Regions from separate parts of the Homo sapiens genome. Here region 1 is linked to region 2. Evidence: fine-mapped QTL for protein levels in blood plasma. Region 2 holds a variant in brackets. A gene starts in the other region. All regions are shown on their reverse strands. Region 1 holds the start of SPINK4 (serine peptidase inhibitor Kazal type 4). Region 2 overlaps MUC2 (mucin 2, oligomeric mucus/gel-forming).

The links. PIP is the chance, under the fine-mapping model, that this variant and not a neighbour inherited with it causes the effect. The UK Biobank Pharma Proteomics Project read protein levels with antibody pairs (Olink). The fine-mapping took linkage between variants from a reference panel, not from the people measured, so its PIPs are less certain.
Region 1: it holds the start of SPINK4, and the variant in region 2 is fine-mapped to the plasma level of the SPINK4 protein (UK Biobank, PIP above 0.99).

What each region holds. Positions count from the first base shown.
Region 1 is chr9:33,236,141-33,244,464 of GRCh38, reverse strand. SPINK4 (serine peptidase inhibitor Kazal type 4) reads right to left here and starts at 4,298. Exons shown (of 4, transcript NM_014471.3): 1 at 4,196-4,298. The coding sequence starts at 4,256.
Region 2 is chr11:1,075,346-1,083,632 of GRCh38, reverse strand. MUC2 (mucin 2, oligomeric mucus/gel-forming) reads right to left here. Exons shown (of 58, transcript NM_002457.5): 2 at 7,712-7,982; 3 at 6,065-6,179; 4 at 5,591-5,681; 5 at 5,401-5,510; 6 at 5,111-5,321; 7 at 1,846-1,971; 8 at 1,231-1,348; 9 at 1,014-1,152; 10 at 645-755; 11 at 487-556; 12 at 71-208. Among named protein-coding and RNA genes, the nearest start is that of MUC2, 4.6 kb to the right of the region's middle. RefSeq lists enhancers at 4,745-5,286, 5,312-5,812. The variant A/G (reference allele first, on the strand shown) is at 555.

The DNA.
Region 1 (8,324 bases), not on the chromosome of region 2:
GCATGGAAGTCAACTTCCCTCATCCTTCATGGATGTTACTCCCATGAACGCTCCCCAGTAAATTGCATGTATAGCTCAGAATCTGTTTCCTGGGGCATAGGTCAGTTTAACGAACTACGAAAGAGGCTCAAAGAGGTGACGCAATGCAGTTTGTTAAGGCAGAGGTAGGATTTTCCCACACGTCTGTTGCAGTCCAGAGCCTGACTCTTTCTACATACACTGGTGTACCCCTCAAGGTCTGGCTGAACTGCTTAAAGGACATGAGCAAACTGTGATGTGACTGACAAGCATGATGGGTGGATGAGGGAACTGGAGCTATGTCTAATGGCACAGGTGGAAGGAAGGGCGTTTATGTAAATTAGAGAAGGGCAGGATGCTCCCTGAAGTCTCTGAAGGGCTATCCTGGGGCTGAGGGAGAGATGGACTCTTTTCAACCTCACAAAGCAGAGCCCATCTCTGTGAGGAGGCTGCAGGGAAGCAGGTTTGGGTTCCATATGAAGCAGAATTTTCTCTCAGTGGGAGCTATGCCACAGTGAAAGAGGCTTTCTCCAGAAGTAGTGAGTTTCCCATCACTGGAGGTGTGCAAGGCAATGTAGTTTTATATTTTCCTGGAGATGCTATTACAGGGTATTTCCACAGAGAGAGGGAAACAGAAACTTAGACTAAGTCACCCCAATGTGCTGTTTAAGCCTGGCATTGGGGTATCAAAATGCAAACCTAGACCTGTCACTGAACTGCTTAAAACCCTTCCATGTCAAATTGCCCAAACTGAAAGTGATCCAAATGTCCTTCAACAGGAGAATGGATAAATAAATACAATGGGGCACTACTGAACAATTAAAACAAGCAACTGATACATGCAATAACGTGGCTGAATCTCAAAAATAGTTTGCTGAGCATAAGAAACCACACACAAAAGATTATATACCCTATGATTCCATTTATGTGAAATCCTAGAACAGGCCAACTAATCTATGATGGAAAAAAATCACATTGGGAAGCTGGGGCAGGAGGATCACTTGAAGCCAGGAGTTTGAGACCAGCCTGGGCAACATAGCAAGACCTCATCTCTACAAAAAATTTAACAATGAGGGCAGGTTGCAGTAGCACACACCTGTAATCCCAGCGCTTTGGGAAGCTGAGGCAGGTGGATCACCTGAAGTCAGGAGTTCGAGACCAGCCTGACCAACATGGTGAAACCCCATATCTACTAAAAATACAAAATTTGCTGGGCGTGGTGGTGCACACCTATAATCCCAGCTATTTAGGAGGCTGTGGCAGGAGAATCACTTGAACCCAGTAGGCAGAGATTGCAGTGAGCCAAGATTGTGCCACTGGACTCCAACCTGGGTGACAGAGCAAAACTCCGTCTCAAAAATAAATAAATAAATAAATAAAAATAAATTTAAAAAAATTTTTAAATTAGCTGAGTGTGGTGGCACGCACCTGTAGTCCCAGCTACTTGTGAGGCTGAGATAGGAGGATCGTTTGAATCCAGGAGGTTGAAGCTGCAGTGAGCTATGATTGCACCACTGCACTCCAGCCTGGGCAACAGAGTGAGACTTTGTCTCTTAAAAAAAAAAAAAAAGTGTCAGAGCACTGGGATGGGGGCAGGGATTGACTGACATAGGGGAATTTCTGGGGCTATGGAAATGTTCTGTATTTATTTTTCTTCCCTAAGTCCTTGTCTCAAGAGGTCCTGTATCTTGATGGGGGTTTGGGTTACACGAGTGTATACATTGTCAAGATTCATCGAGTGATAAGATTTGTGCATTTCTTGATATTTAACTGTTAGGGAAAAGAAAAGCATTTAAAAAATATAAAGCCCTTCCGTGGTTCCCTGTCCTGATCACTAAGCCTCCCTATGGACCTGAGCTGCTTAGTCTTATGTTTAGGGTACTGCGTAAGCTGACCCTAAACTTGCTTCTTGGGCTGACTTCCCAGTACACCTCTCCATGCCCCAGCTATTCCTCTCTGCTCACGGGTCCTAGATTGGGCCCTGCTTTGGCTCATGCCATGTCCCCTCCCTGAAATGTCTTCGTCTCCGTTCTCCTCCCGCCGAATCATACCCTCCTTTCAAGGCTTGATGCTGCCCCCCAGTGAAGCTGTCCTTGACGTCCCCAACAGTTTCCTGAGCAGATCTGGATGGAGGCTTCTTTCACACCACCATGTACTGTCCCACTCACTGGGTCACCCCGCCTCCCTATGCACCTGAGCTCCTTGGGGTTCCTTTATGTCTGCCTTTGCGCAGCACTTGGTTCAATGTCCTACACTGTGGGTGTTCAGGAATTGAATACTAAAGTGCATTGGTGTAATCCCAGCACCTTGGGAAGCCGAGGCGGGCAAATCTTGGGGTTGGAAGTTCGAGACCAGCCTGGCCAACATGGTGAAACTCCGTCTCTACTAAAAATACAAAAATTAGTTGGGTGTGGTGGCATGTGCCTGTAATCCCAGCTACTCAGGAGGCTGAGGCAGGATAATTGCTTCAACCTAGGAGGCAGAGGTTGCAGTGAGCCAAGATCGTGCCACTGCACTCCAGCCTGGGCAACAAAGCAAGACTCTGTCTTGAAAAAAAAATTTTTGTTTAAATAAAAAAAAAAATTAAAGTGTATTGGGAGGAGGGGGTGTTCAGAACTCTAAGATGTCAGAGTTTCTTTCTGGGGGATGTGGGGAAAAGCTACATTTACCCCCAGGCTGCCCTTGACCTTGACCCAAAATGCCCCCTCCTCACTCAGCCCAGGCAGTAGTCTGAAATGTGCAAAAAACAAAAACAAAAACAAACAAACAAAAACCAAACTTCTTCAGAGCAGGCTTTTCAGTGTTCCCAACTGCTCAAGGAGTAGGTAGGTGTAGGTGCCAGGCTGGGCGTAAGCAGGCTGCTCCTGAACAGGTCCCCAGACCCGTTTCCCTTTCCCCCTGTGCCCAGGTCTGTTTCCAGCTGGGGAAATGGGTGTGGGACTGGCCATGAGGTCAGTGGCCCTGGATCCTGCCAGGCGTTGCCTTATAACTTATGGCTTTTGTCCAGGCGGGTCCTAACTGGTCTCCCCGCTTCCCTGTTCAGTTTATTCTCAATGTACCAACCAGAGCAACCCTTGAAAGACATAACTCTCTGCTCAAAGCTTTCAGTGCCTCCCATTTTAGTCAGAGGAAAAGCCAAGTTCTTATGTTGGCCAACAAGGTCTTTCCCGGTACAGTTCCAATTTGCCTCTCTCATCTCCTCTCCTATCACTCCGTACAATGTCCCCTCCTGCCACACTGGTCTTACAGTACCTCAGTCACTCCAGGCATGCCCCTGCCTCAGGTCCTTTGCACCTGAGCTGTTCCCTCTGCCTGGAATCTTCTCCCAGATATCCACATGGCTTAGTCCCTCATCTCCTTCAAGCTTTGCTCAAACATCGGACTCTCAGAGATACCTCCCCTGATTTGAAATTGCAACCCCCTTCCAGTGCCCATCACCCTGCCAAGTATTTTTTCCTTAACTTTTATCAGCTTCTAACATACCGTTTAACATACATTGTAACCATCTTGTTTATTGCCTTTCCCCTTTTCCTCTACCCCATTGGATTTATGCTCCATCAGGACCGTGCTTTTTCTGTTTGGGTCACTAATCTGTCTTAAGGGCTCAGAACAGTGCCTGACATGGTAGCTGTGAGATTGCAGGGATGGCCCAGATCCTGAGAGGGCCCTGCCCCAAGTATATGTGTCCAGTCCTGGGAAAGGGCTCTGTCGTGCTCACATGGCTGCCCAAGTCCCAAACCACAGCCTTTCAGAGAGATCGGGAGCTCAGAAGACCTCGGCCAGGTCTCTCTTAGCATCCACCACCCTGCACCCAGCATACTTGTCAGTCTCTCCTGAGAGCTGGGACCTACCTGCTCCCTTCTGTCCCCACAGCCTCCAGCCCAATAGTTGCTCAGTGCAGCTTTGAACTGGAACAATGCCCTCTTTTACAGCTGGAGAAACTGAGGCCCCAAGAGGGTAGGGGACTTTGGTAATTCTGCGCCAGTCAGGATTTGAACCCAAGTTTCTTTTCTCCCAGCCCAGAACTTTCCCCAGCACAGTGGAGGGTGCATATGCAGAATGAAGGTACATGGAAAAAGCTGAGGCCTCACAGGGTGCTCCAGGCCCTGCTTCTGCTCTCACCCCAAGCTCACCTACCAACACAAAGCCACAGAGAATCCAGGTTCTGCCCACTCACCCCTGTCCACAACAAGGAGGGCAGCCAAGGCCAGGGCGATTACCCACTGGCGGACGGCCATGCTGATCCTGGGATAGTGTAGCCTGAGCTGGCTGGGGCCTGCGCCTGAGGAAGGATGGGGGCCTATTTATAGTGCCGCTCTCCTAATCTTATCTTATCTAGGGCCAGATGGAGAGACCAGAGTTAATCTTTGCACGCTGACATCCGGAAAGGGCTTGCTCTAGGTGCAGATGCTGAGCTTTTGATGAGATGGGGCTGTGGCCATGGGGCTGGCAGGTTTCCAGAGTGACAAAAAGTTTGGACAACTTGCAAAGCTGACTCCAATCTGAGGGTTGGAGCAAGGAGAGGAAAGTTGAAGTAGAAAGAGAGAGAGTTCAAGGCAGAGAGAAGGGGAAAGAGATAGAGAAAGAGAGAAAGGAAAAAAGCAACTGGAAGATGGCAGGAGGCAGAGAAGGGGGCTGGAGCCTGGATTCCTTTGCCAGTGCCTCCAGCAACCAACTCTGGGACCTCGGTAGAGCCACTTTTCTTAACTGGGCCTCAGATCACCCATGCACGAAGTGGAGATGAGACTTTTGGCTCTGCCTTTCTCCCAGGCTGCTGTGAGGATGGCGGCGGTGATAGCAGACGGGAAAACATTTTGCAGAATATGAAATGAGCTGTAAACGTAAGCAGAAATGATCATTTTTACTTACTTTTATTTCACTTATTTTTTTGTACCGCAAAGTGGGCACAACTAACAGGCAAAACAAAGGCAAAATAAAACATTAAAAGGAAGATGCCTTCTTGCTTTGCAGGTATTATGTGTTCATTTGCTTTTTTTTTTTTTGAGACAGAGTCTCACACTGTTGCCCGGGCTGGTGTGCCTGGCGCGATCTCGGCTGGCTGCAACCCCTGCCTCCTGGGTTCAAGCGATTCTCCTGCCTCAGCCTCCTGAGTAGCTAGGATTACAGGCACCTGCCACCTGCCCAGCTAACTTTTTGTATTTTTAGTAGAGACGGGGTTTCACTATGTTGGCCAGGCTGATCTCGAACTCCTGACCTCGTGATCTGCCTGCCTCGGCCTCCCAAAGTGCTGGGATTATAGGCATGAGTCACTGCACGCGGCCTCATCTGTATCTTCATAGGTTAAATAAAGACAAGATTCTTTTAAAGAAAAATCAGTTTCTAAAACTCCCCCATACTTACATAGTATACATTAATAAGTCATTTGGATATTTGCTCTCAAAGAATTTCTGATATATAAAATACATTTTATTTACATACACGTTTCTCTAATTCATTTAGATCAGTGTTTTTCAGCTCTGTCTGCAGATTGGATTTCCCTGGGGGAGAATTTACAAATACAGATGCTGAGCTTCGCTCTGAAATATTTAAATCAGAATCTGTGTTTTTTTTTTTTAAAGAAAAACTTTATTTCGAAAGATTTCAAGCCTGCAGATAAGTTGCAAGAATATTCCAATGACAAGGCGAAGGATTCTTGTTTGAGGACAGCCCCAGCCAGGTGCGGTGGCTCATGCCTGTAATCCTAACACTTGGGAGGCTGAGGCAGGAGGATTGCTTGAGCCCAGAAATTAGAGACCAGCCTGGGCAATATAGCAAGACCCCAACTCTAAAAAAAAATTTTTTTTTTAATTAAAAAAAGAACAGTCCCTTTGGGGACACCAGCCATCCAGTCACCTCTACAGACCCATAGAAGCCCCAGACCTGTGGCCAAGACTAGCTTGAGGCCCCCAGTGATCCTTGACTCAGCTTCAAGATCCTTCCGTTCCTCCTTAGGAAACTGCACAGTCCCAGGGATGCCTCTGAGGCAGGTGGCAGCTATCTTTCCATTGCTTAGGCAGGTAGAGAAAATATTTAATGATGACTTCCTGTCCTAAAGCAAAAACGCCATCTTATAAAAGGGGAATTGGACTTTAAAGGTCATCTTGGGGCCAGGCACCATGGCTCACACCTGTAATCCCAGCACTTTGGGAGGAGGCTGAGGCGGGTGCATTCACTTGAGGTCAGGAGTTCGAGACCAGCCCTGGTCAACATGGTGACACCCATCTCTACCAAAAATACAAAAAATTAGCCAGGCGTGGTGGCGCATACCTGTAATCCCAGCTACTCAGGAGGCTGAGGCAGGAGAATTGCTTGAACCTGGGAGGTGGAGGGTGCAGTGAGCCAAGGTTGTGCCACTGCATTCCAGCCTGGTGACAGAGCGAGAAACTGCCTAAATAAATAAATAAATAAATAAATAAATAAAAATAGGCTTGGTGTGGTGGCTCACGCCTGTAATCCTAGCACTTTGGGAGGCCAAGCTGCATGGATCACCTGAGGTCAGGAGTTCGAGACCAGGCTGGCTGACATGGTGAAACCCCATCTCTACTAAAAATACACACACACACACACACACACACACACACACACACAAATTAGCTGGGTGTGGTGGCGTGTGCCTGTAATCTCAGTTACTTGGGAGGCTGAGGGAGGAGAATTACTTGAACTAGGGAGGCGGAGGTTGAAGTGAGCCGAGATTGCGCCACTGCACTCCAGCCTGGGTGATGGAGCCAGACGGTCTCAAAATAAATAAATAGATACATAAATAAATAAAATAATAAAATAAAAAATAATGGTCATCTGGGTTTCATCTCCCTTCTTCCACTAGGGCTTTCCTACAGCAGCCCCACTGGGAGGTCATTCATGGTGATGGGGAGCTCACTACCTACCAGTTTCGTTGTTGGATGGCTTCGAACAAAGACAGTCCTTCCTCACACAAGAGGTCTGCCTCCCTGAGAGTCCTTGGGGCTTATAGCTTTGTCTCTGGCCTCCTGTACTTGCATGAACCTCCTGTACTTGCACAAGCACCTTTAGGCTGAGCAGGTCTGCCATCTGCCTGCCTCCTACCCTTGCACATGTGAAGCTCCTGGGCCTCTCTCCATTTCTCATCTGATCACTGACAGGTCTGTCTGTCAGTGTCCCAGGTTACAGTGAGGAAGGGACAGAGGGGAGCAAAGGGATTTGATCCCTTCCTTGTTTTGGACCTTAGATTTCTATCCACGTGGCAGAAATGGCTACTGAACATTCTAGTTGCTGCAAGGAGCCAGGACGCTTGAATTTTGCATCCTTCAAAGTACAGAGTAAAGTCAAGGGCAGCCTGTGGAGTACTGAGCTCACTTACCATCCCAGCCCACCCCAAGGTCTCCTCTTCAGACAAATACCTTCTAGATTCACTCATAGTAACAAACTTCGTAATCTGTCATCCCATCAAAGTGTGAACCTAGCTCCTATATCCGACTGCTATTGAACAGCCCATTAAGGATGTCAGTGCATCCAAGAAAACCTCACCATTAATTCACCATTCATGTATTCAGTAAAAGTTTAACAAGCGGCTAAGTGCCATGCTCCATGCTGAGTGCTTGGATATGGCAGAGAGTGAGTCAGATACAGTTCCTGTCCTCCAGGAGCTTTGGTTAAGTAGAGGCACAGTACTGAACGGGCAGCAGCATTGTATCATCACTGCTGGAGTGAGTCCCATGAACCACACATGCTCTGTTCTGTGAGAGGATCCAAGAGTGACCTATCCATCTGAGATCAGAGACGCCAAGGGCTGAGTGGGCAGGGCAGGCTGTAGCCAAGTGGAACAGTGCTGCAGGTAGAGGAAACAGAATGTGTGAGAGCCCTGAGGCAAGAAGAAGCTTCTCACATCTGAAGAACAGAGAAGCCATGTGGGCAAAGTGGGGCCAGGGAGCCGGGGAGGGCCATGACAGGAGTCTGGAATGGTCAGTGGGGGCTAAATAAGCCTTGATCTCTGCTCCCCTGACCCACATCCCAGCAACCTCCGGCAGTGGAATCCCAGGCACTGACCCCTCAGCCTTGTTTGCCTTCCCATGGAGGGTCTAGGTTCTGCTTCCTACATAGCTCTTGAATCCATCCCTGCCCCTCCACACCCCCCACTCTACCCTAGTCCTGGCCACTGTTGTCTCCAACCTGGCCACCTCAATGGTGTCCTGTCTCATATCCCTGGCTCTCCACCTGCCACTCCAAATCACTCTGCACGCAGCGTCCCGGACAAGCGTCCTAAAGAGCAAAGCTGACCAGGTCATCTTGCCCAAAACACTGTAATGGCGTCCACTGCCAACAGGAAGAAG
Region 2 (8,287 bases):
TGGGAAGAGTCTGGGGCTAGCAGGCCCCCCTGTGGGCCTTTGTTGGGGCAACCCCGGTGGGGCCACTTACCCTGCACCTGCCCCTGGGAGGCCTGGTCCAGTGTCACAAAGAGTTGCATGACTGGGGCCAGCTGCACCTGCAGCCGGACGCCAATGGCCATGCTCACCATGATGTGGTAGGAAGACGGGCGGAAGACAGAGAAGCTCGCTGTGGGCAGGGGCACGATGAGGGACACGGTAAGGGGCATGGCGAGGGGCGGGGCTCCCGGGACCTGCCTGGCCCAGGTGAGCAGCGGGAGGGTGTCACCCTCCCACCACCCCCTCCAGCAGAGGACCCAGGACGGAGCCTGCTGGGTGCCGCAGGGACCCTCCCCCCGTGGAACCTTCCCACCCAGCCTCCTGGGTCCGAGGTGGCTGGACTGTCCGAATCACTGCAGGCCCAGTGGAGCTCGAAGGGCCCGGGCCCCTCCCTGGGGCGCAACTCACCGGTCACGTGGGGCAGGTTCACCTGCAGCTCGTTGAGCAGTACACTGCCATCGGACTTGAAGACCACC[A/G]CCTGCAGGGAAGGCCGAGGTTGCTCAGGGCTGAGAAGGGCCCCCCTCGGGGGACCTGGGGCTCCAGAAGGAGGGGGCAGGACCACTCACATTCTTCTTCTTGTCAGCCAGCAGCACCACCGTCTTCAGGCAGGTCTGCTTGTCTGTGGAGCCACAGGGGGCCAGCTCGCCCAGGAGAGCGTAGGAATCGTTGTGGTCACCCTGTGATGGGGCAAGAGGCAGTGCAGCTGCTGAGGGCCGGGACGGGCAGCACCCTGCACCCTAGGACCCGGCAGTGGCTTAGAAAGGAAGGCCTGCTTCTTATTCTCCAGCCAGAGAGCAGAAGCATGGTCACCTGCCCCAGGACAGCCCACAGGCACCCTCTGCTTCAGGGACAGCCAGCCCACCCACCCCGGGACAGCCAAGGGCCTGGATGCCAGCCCCAGCTCTGCCCCATGCCCCAGACCCTGGGCAGCCTACCTTGGCCAGGACATAGTAGCAGTCCCCGTGGAAGGTGTACGTCTTCCCATCGAAGGTGGTGATGTGGGAGCCGCCTTCCAGGGCACAGGTGCCGGGGCAGGGCAGGTCTTTGCACACCCAGCGGCCAGCGTTACAGACACTGTTGGGCAGCGGGGCACAGGGTCAGGGCTCAGCCGCCCCAGCCTCTGCTGTGCCCAGCCCTGGCCCCGGGACTCACCACTGCTCGCAGTCATTGGTGATCTCCTGGCCCGGTGTGTACAGGTGTCCGTGCAGCCTGCAGTGGCACTGGCTCACAGGAACGCAGCCACTGTCCCCGATGTCGTCATATACGGTGCCTGGGACAGCCAGGGAGGCGATGTCACCCCGGCTGGCTCAGAAAGAGCCAGAATCCCCACCGAGGGGCTGCCAGCCAGGCCTCCCACCCGCAGGCACCACTGGTCCCCTGTGCTGACGCCTGCGGTCCCCACCTGGTCCCTGGGTTGGGGTCTGGCCATGGGGGTCCAGCCTCCAGGCCACCTTCCTGCCCCTGACAATCGAGCTGCTCCCAAAGGCCTCAGGCACCAGGCCAGGGGCCGGGCAGGAGGAGGTCTGTCCCCAGGGTGATAACCAGGAAGGCAGCCCCCTTCCCGGCCTCCCTGAAGCCACCCTTTGGGAAGGGCCTCACACCGAGGCCCCTTCTCCCCCGGTATCGGGTGGAGGGAGAGGCACTTCTGTGCCGCCGCTGCCCCCACCACCCAGCGGAGCCGTCCCCTCAGCGCAGGCGAGAACCCCAGGCCAGGGCTGCCTCTCATCTGGTGGGCAGTGCCAGGGCGGGGCCATCCTCCACACGCACCTTCTGGGCAGAAACAGCCGTCCATGCGGTGCTCCTCGCACAGGCTGCTCACCTCCAGGTGTGAGCAGGTGTCCATGCAGGGCGAGCCGCTCTCCAGGTACACCAGGTTCCCGGGGCAGGTCTTGGCTGGAACCGCAGAGGCCACGCAGTGAGGGTGAGGCTGGGGCACAGCAGCCGCTCCACCCCGAAGTGCACCGAGAAGGGCTCTCAGCCCACGGTGAGTGTCCCCCCAGCTCCCGGTGCCCGGCGCGGTGAGTGTCCCCCCAGCTCCCGGTGCCCGTGGTGAGTGTCCCCCCAGCTCCCGGTGCCCGTGGTGAGTGTCCCCCCAGCTCCCGGTGCCCGGCACGGTGAGTGTCCCCCCAGCTCCCGGTGCCCGTGGTGAGTGTCCCCCCAGCTCCCGGTGCCCGTGGTGAGTGTCCCCCCAGCTCCCGGTGCCCTCAGTGAGTGTCCCCCCAGCTCCCGGTGCCCGTCACGGTGAGTGTCCCCCCAGCTCCCGGTGCCCGTGGTGAGTGTCCCCCCAGCTCCCGGTGCCCGGCACAGTGAGTGTCCCCCCAGCTCTCGGTGCCCGTGGTGAGTGTCCCCCCAGCTCCCGGTGCCCTCAGTGAGTGTCCCCCCAGCTCCCGGTGCCCGGCACGGTGAGTGTCCCCCCAGCTCCCGGTGCCCGTGGTGAGTGTCCCCCCAGCTCCCGGTGCCCGTCACGGTGAGTGTCCCCCCAGCTCCCGGTGCCCGTGGTGAGTGTCCCCCCAGCTCCCGGTGCCCGGCACAGTGAGTGTCCCCCCAGCTCTCGGTGCCCGTGGTGAGTGTCCCCCCAGCTCCCGGTGCCCTCAGTGAGTGTCCCCCCAGCTCCCGGTGCCCGGCACGGTGAGTGTCCCCCCAGCTCCCGGTGCCCGTGGTGAGTGTCCCCCCAGCTCCCGGTGCCCGTGGTGAGTGTCCCCCCAGCTCCCGGTGCCCGTGGTGAGTGTCCCCCCAGCTCCCGGTGCCCGTCACGGTGAGTGTCCCCCCAGCTCCCGGTGCCCGTGGTGAGTGTCCCCCCAGCTCCCAGTGCCCGTGGTGAGTGTCCCCCCAGCTCCCAGTGCCCGCGGTGAGTGTCCCCCCAGCTCCCGGTGCCCGTGGTGAGTGTCCCCCCAGCTCCCGGTGCCCGTGGTGAGTGTCCCCCCAGCTCCCGGTGCCCGTGGTGAGTGTCCCCCCAGCTCCCGGTGCCCGTCACGGTGAGTGTCCCCCCAGCTCCCGGTGCCCGTGGTGAGTGTCCCCCCAGCTCCCAGTGCCCGTGGTGAGTGTCCCCCCAGCTCCCAGTGCCCGTGGTGAGTGTCCCCCCAGCTCCCGGTGCCCGGCGCGGTGAGTGTCCCCCCAGCTCCCGGTGCCCGTGGTGAGTGTCCCCCCAGCTCCCGGTGCCCTCAGTGAGTGTCCCCCCAGCTCCCGGTGCCCGTCACGGTGAGTGTCCCCCCAGCTCCCGGTGCCCGTGGTGAGTGTCCCCCCAGCTCCCGGTGCCCGTCACGGTGAGTGTCCCCCCAGCTCTCGGTGCCCGTGGTGAGTGTCCCCCCAGCTCTTGGTGCCCTCAGTGAGTGTCCCCCCAGCTCCCGGTGCCCTCAGTGAGTGTCCCCCCAGCTCCCGGTGCCCTCAGTGAGTGTCCCCCCAGCTCCCGGTGCCCGGCACGGTGAGTGTCCCCCCAGCTCCCGGTGCCCTCAGTGAGTGTCCCCCCAGCTCCCGGTGCCCGGCGCGGTGAGTGTCCCCCCAGCTCCCAGTGCCCGTGGTGAGTGTCCCCCCAGCTCAAGGTGCCCGTCACAGTGAGTGTCCCCCCAGCTCTCGGTGCCCGTCACGGTGAGTGTCCCCCCAGCTCCCGGTGCCCGGCGCGGTGAGTGTCCCCCCAGCTCCCGGTGCCCGTCACAGTGAGTGTCCCCCCAGCTCTCGGTGCCCTCAGTGAGTGTCCCCCCAGCTCCCGGTGCCCGGCGCGGTGAGTGTCCCCCCAGCTCCCGGTGCCCTCAGTGAGTGTCCCCCCAGCTCCCGGTGCCCGGCACGGTGAGTGTCCCCCCAGCTCCCGGTGCCCGTCACAGTGAGTGTCCCCCCAGCTCCCGGTGCCCGTCACAGTGAGTGTCCCCCCAGCTCTCGGTGCCCGTCACAGTGAGTGTCCCCCCAGCTCCCGGTGCCCTCAGTGAGTGTCCCCCCAGCTCCCGGTGCCCGGCACGGTGAGTGTCCCCCCAGCTCCCGGTGCCCGGCACGGTGAGTGTCCCCCCAGCTCCCGGTGCCCGTGGTGAGTGTCCCCCCAGCTCCCGGTGCCCGGCACGGTGAGTGTCCCCCCAGCTCCCGGTGCCCTCAGTGAGTGTCCCCCCAGCTCCCGGTGCCCGGCACGGTGAGTGTCCCCCCAGCTCCCGGTGCCCGTCACAGTGAGTGTCCCCCCAGCTCCCGGTGCCCGTCACAGTGAGTGTCCCCCCAGCTCTCGGTGCCCGTCACAGTGAGTGTCCCCCCAGCTCCCGGTGCCCTCAGTGAGTGTCCCCCCAGCTCCCAGTGCCCGTGGTGAGTGTCCCCCCAGCTCCCGGTGCCCGGCACGGTGAGTGTCCCCCCAGCTCCCGGTGCCCGTCACAGTGAGTGTCCCCCCAGCTCCCGGTGCCCGGCGCGGTGAGTGTCCCCCCAGCTCTCGGTGCCCGTGGTGAGTGTCCCCCCAGCTCCCGGTGCCCGGCACGGTGAGTGTCCCCCCAGCTCCCGGTGCCCGGCGCGGTGAGTGTCCCCCCAGCTCCCGGTGCCCGGCACGGTGAGTGTCCCCCCAGCTCCCGGTGCCCGGCACGGTGAGTGTCCCCCCAGCTCAAGGTGCCCGGCACGGTGAGTGTCCCCCCAGCTCCCGGTGCCCGTGGTGAGTGTCCCCCCAGCTCCCGGTGCCCGGCACGGTGAGTGTCCCCCCAGCTCCCGGTGCCCGTCACGGTGAGTGTCCCCCCAGCTCCCGGTGCCCGTCACGGTGAGTGTCCCCCCAGCTCCCGGTGCCCGGCACGGTGAGTGTCCCCCCAGCTCTCGGTGCCCGTGGTGAGTGTCCCCCCAGCTCCCGGTGCCCGGCACGGTGAGTGTCCCCCCAGCTCAAGGTGCCCGGCACGGTGAGTGTCCCCCCAGCTCCCGGTGCCCGGCACGGTTAGTGTTCCCCCAGCTCAAGGTGCCCGGTGCGGTGAGTGTCCCCCCAGCTCAAGGTGCCCGGCACAGACACAGCTCCCACCCGGGCTTGGGGAAAGCACCAGCGTGGGGTCTCCCTGGGGTCCCCTGCCCACAAGGCGCCGGGGCTTACGGCAGAGCGTGGCGGTCCTCCAGTTCCCGGGCCGGCCGCCGGCGTGGGAGCACTGGCGGGAGAACTCGGCCACGGTGCTGCAGACGCAGGTGTCACCGCCCGGGCACCGGCAGCGGTCCTGCTGGCAGGCGCGCAGATACGGCTCCAGCGGCACCAGGTCCTGACAGTCCGCGAAGGCCTCGGCGGTCAGCAGCCTCTCACACTCGGCGCGCTGGGGACAGACGCAGGGTGAGCATGCTATTCAGAGGCCAGCTCCGCCAGGACCCCCACCCCGGACCGAGGGGACTCACGTGCTCGGAGCAGGATGCGGGGGCCACCTCCTCCTCGGGATCCTCACACACCACATCGGGCTGGTTGATCTTCTGCATGTTCCCAAACTCCAGGGGACTGAAGAGCACGCCTGGGGATGCACGGCCCTTCAGCTAGGGCTCCTGGGGGCCCGTAGCCTACCCTGCCCCCTCCAAGCCCTCCGGGCCTCACCGTCAGAGAGGAATTCTGAATAGCTCTGCAGGCCGTTGTAGTCCCCGCAGAGGCCACAGGTGTGGTTCCGGAACTTAGTGTCCAGCTCCAGCTGTTGCGGGAGGGAGCAGGTGAGCTGGCCTCCCGCCCGGCCCACAGCCGCCAGGAACCCCCAAGACTCGTGGCTTGTTTGAGCCAGAGGAAGGTGGGGCAGGAAGGCTGGGGTCAGCAGCCAGGGAGCGGCCTGGCAGGGCAGGTCCCTGAGAAGCCGAGTGCGTTTGGGGGAAGGCTGAGGCCTGGGGGGGTCAGGGCCAGGTCGGCTTCTGCTGCTGCCCCCCAAGTCCAGCACCGACGCCCTGCGCTGCCGAGGCCCTGCCCCACCCATGCCCTCTCGGTGAGGGGTCAGAGCACTGCCCTCCCTGCCCTCCCTTGGGGTCTGCCCAGAGGCCTGACGGAGCCCCCACCAGCCCCACGAGTCCGGGGACCCCTGAGCACCATGAGTGCATCCTCCCGGTTCCACATGAGGGTGAGGCCGGCGCGGGAGTAGACTTTGGTGTAGGCATCGCTCTTCTCAATGAGCAGCCCGGGGCTGTAGTGCGGGGTGCTGACCCTGGCGGAGGCACATCGGGGTCACTCTTGGGTCCACCACCCAGGCCCCCCCGCCCCAGCTTGTCCTCCCGGGACCCCGCCGCCCAGAGGGGACTGAAGCTGGGCACCTGGGGTGGTGGAGATGGCTCTGCCAGGCCCAGCTCCTGCCCTGGGATCACCAACTTGGCCGGCCTCTGGGGTGGAGGGACATAGGCAGTGGCCAAAGAGCACCTGTCCATCTCCGCTGGCCGGGCTTCCCCGGCAGAGCCACCTCCTGCCTGCACGCCCCTCCTCTCCACTCCCTCCTCGGGGCACGGTCCTGGGCAGGGTCCCCCCTCAGAGGCCCTGAGGGCACCAGGTTGGGAGAGGAGGGAGGACCAGGCTGCCCAGCCCCCTTCCAGGCCCCCTGCTTGGTGGAACATCCCCCCATGGGGTCCCAAACCCCCCAGAGCCCCCCAGGCTGCCCCTGAGAACGTCAGGGGCCCTACCCCACCTCCTGCCAGTGCCCCTTGCTGGTCCAGGTAGAGGCACTCACCCCAGCCTCTGTGCCTCGGTCCTCAAGGGCCTCTACCTGCCTGCCCATGCCTGAAAGCCTCTACCCACCCACCTGCCAACACCCATGCCTGAGGGCCCCTACCCACCCACCCGCCTGCGCCCATGCCTGAGGGCCTCTACCCACCCACCTGTGCCATGCCTGAGGGCCTCTACCCACCCACCCACCTGCGCCCACACCTGAGGACCTCTACCCACCCGCCCGCACCTACGCCTGACGGCCTCTATCCACCCACCCGCGCCCACGCCTGAGGGCCTCTACCCACCCACCCGCCTGCACCCATGCCTGAGGGCCTCTACCCACCCACCCGCGCCCACACCTGACGGCCTCTACCCACCCACCTGCCCATGCCCACACCTGAGGACCTCTACCCACCCGCCTGCACCCATGCCTGACGGCTTCTATCCACCCACCCGCCCGCACTCACGCCTGAGGGCCTCTACCCACCCGCCTGCCCATGCCCATGCCTGAGGGCCTCCACCCGCCTGCCCATGCCCATGCTGGGGCGCCTTGCAGGAAACTAAATCCCCAGGCAGAAGAGGGGCAGGCGCTGGATGGGAACGCACTTACAGGGCCTCATTGTTCTGGAGACAATAGGGGAGCAATAGCTGGGGATGGGGAAGGGGGTCCCACAGCCCCCTGCACCGGCTTCTGTAACTCTAGCCTGGGGAGGGCACACACGGCCACTCCATGCACAGGACCAGAGACATGCAGCCTCCAGGGGTGCCAAGTCTGTCCGGAGCCTGGTGGGCTCCGAGGGGAGGGGCTGTCAGGGACACACAGGCAAAGGGATAACTGAAACCCCTTGCCTATGGGGGGAATGGTGGGGGCTCATCAGTGTTTGTTGAATGAATTAGTGACCTGAACCCAAACCTCAAGGCTGTTCTCCTGAGCTGTGTGCTGGGGCGGAAGGGGTCTTCTAGGGCTACAAGGAATATCCCTTTGGGAAACATCAGCCCCCGTTGCTAGGATGTGGGAGGGGTGCCACCGACCACACTCACACGGCCCCGTTAAGCACAGCCAGGTGGCGGGTGAGGTAGATGGTGTCATCCTTGATGGTCAGCAGGATGGACTCCACCCCGGCGGGGGCCTCAGCCTGGCCCGGACCCCGCTTCAGGTGCACAGCAAATTCCTTGTAGGAGCCTCGGCAGTCGGAGGCGAAGTTGTAGTCGCAGGGGCCGGGGAAGCGGAAGACGTCCCCGTCGAAGGTCTTGTAGTGGAAGTTGCCCCAGGTGCTGCAGACGTTGTGGCCGTGGTTTCGGGTTCTGCCCTCTGAGGGAGCAGCGGGGAATGAGGGGTGAGTGGCCCCGGAGGGGGAAGGCTGCCCAAGCTACCCTCGAGAGAAGGCCCCTGAAGAAGCACCTGGAAGCAGCTTCGAGCCCAGCACAGGGCCCCTGGCCGGGAAAGGTTCCTTCCTATCCTCGGGCCCTCTGCTGGGCCTTGGTCACCCCACCACAGGGGTCTCAGGGCTTCTACCCCCGGCCTGGTGAGGAGTGCGGCCGGGTGCCAAGCGGGATGTAGGAGAGGGCATTCTGGGCACCCCGCTCCCCAGCAAGGGCTGTGCTGCCCCAACTCTT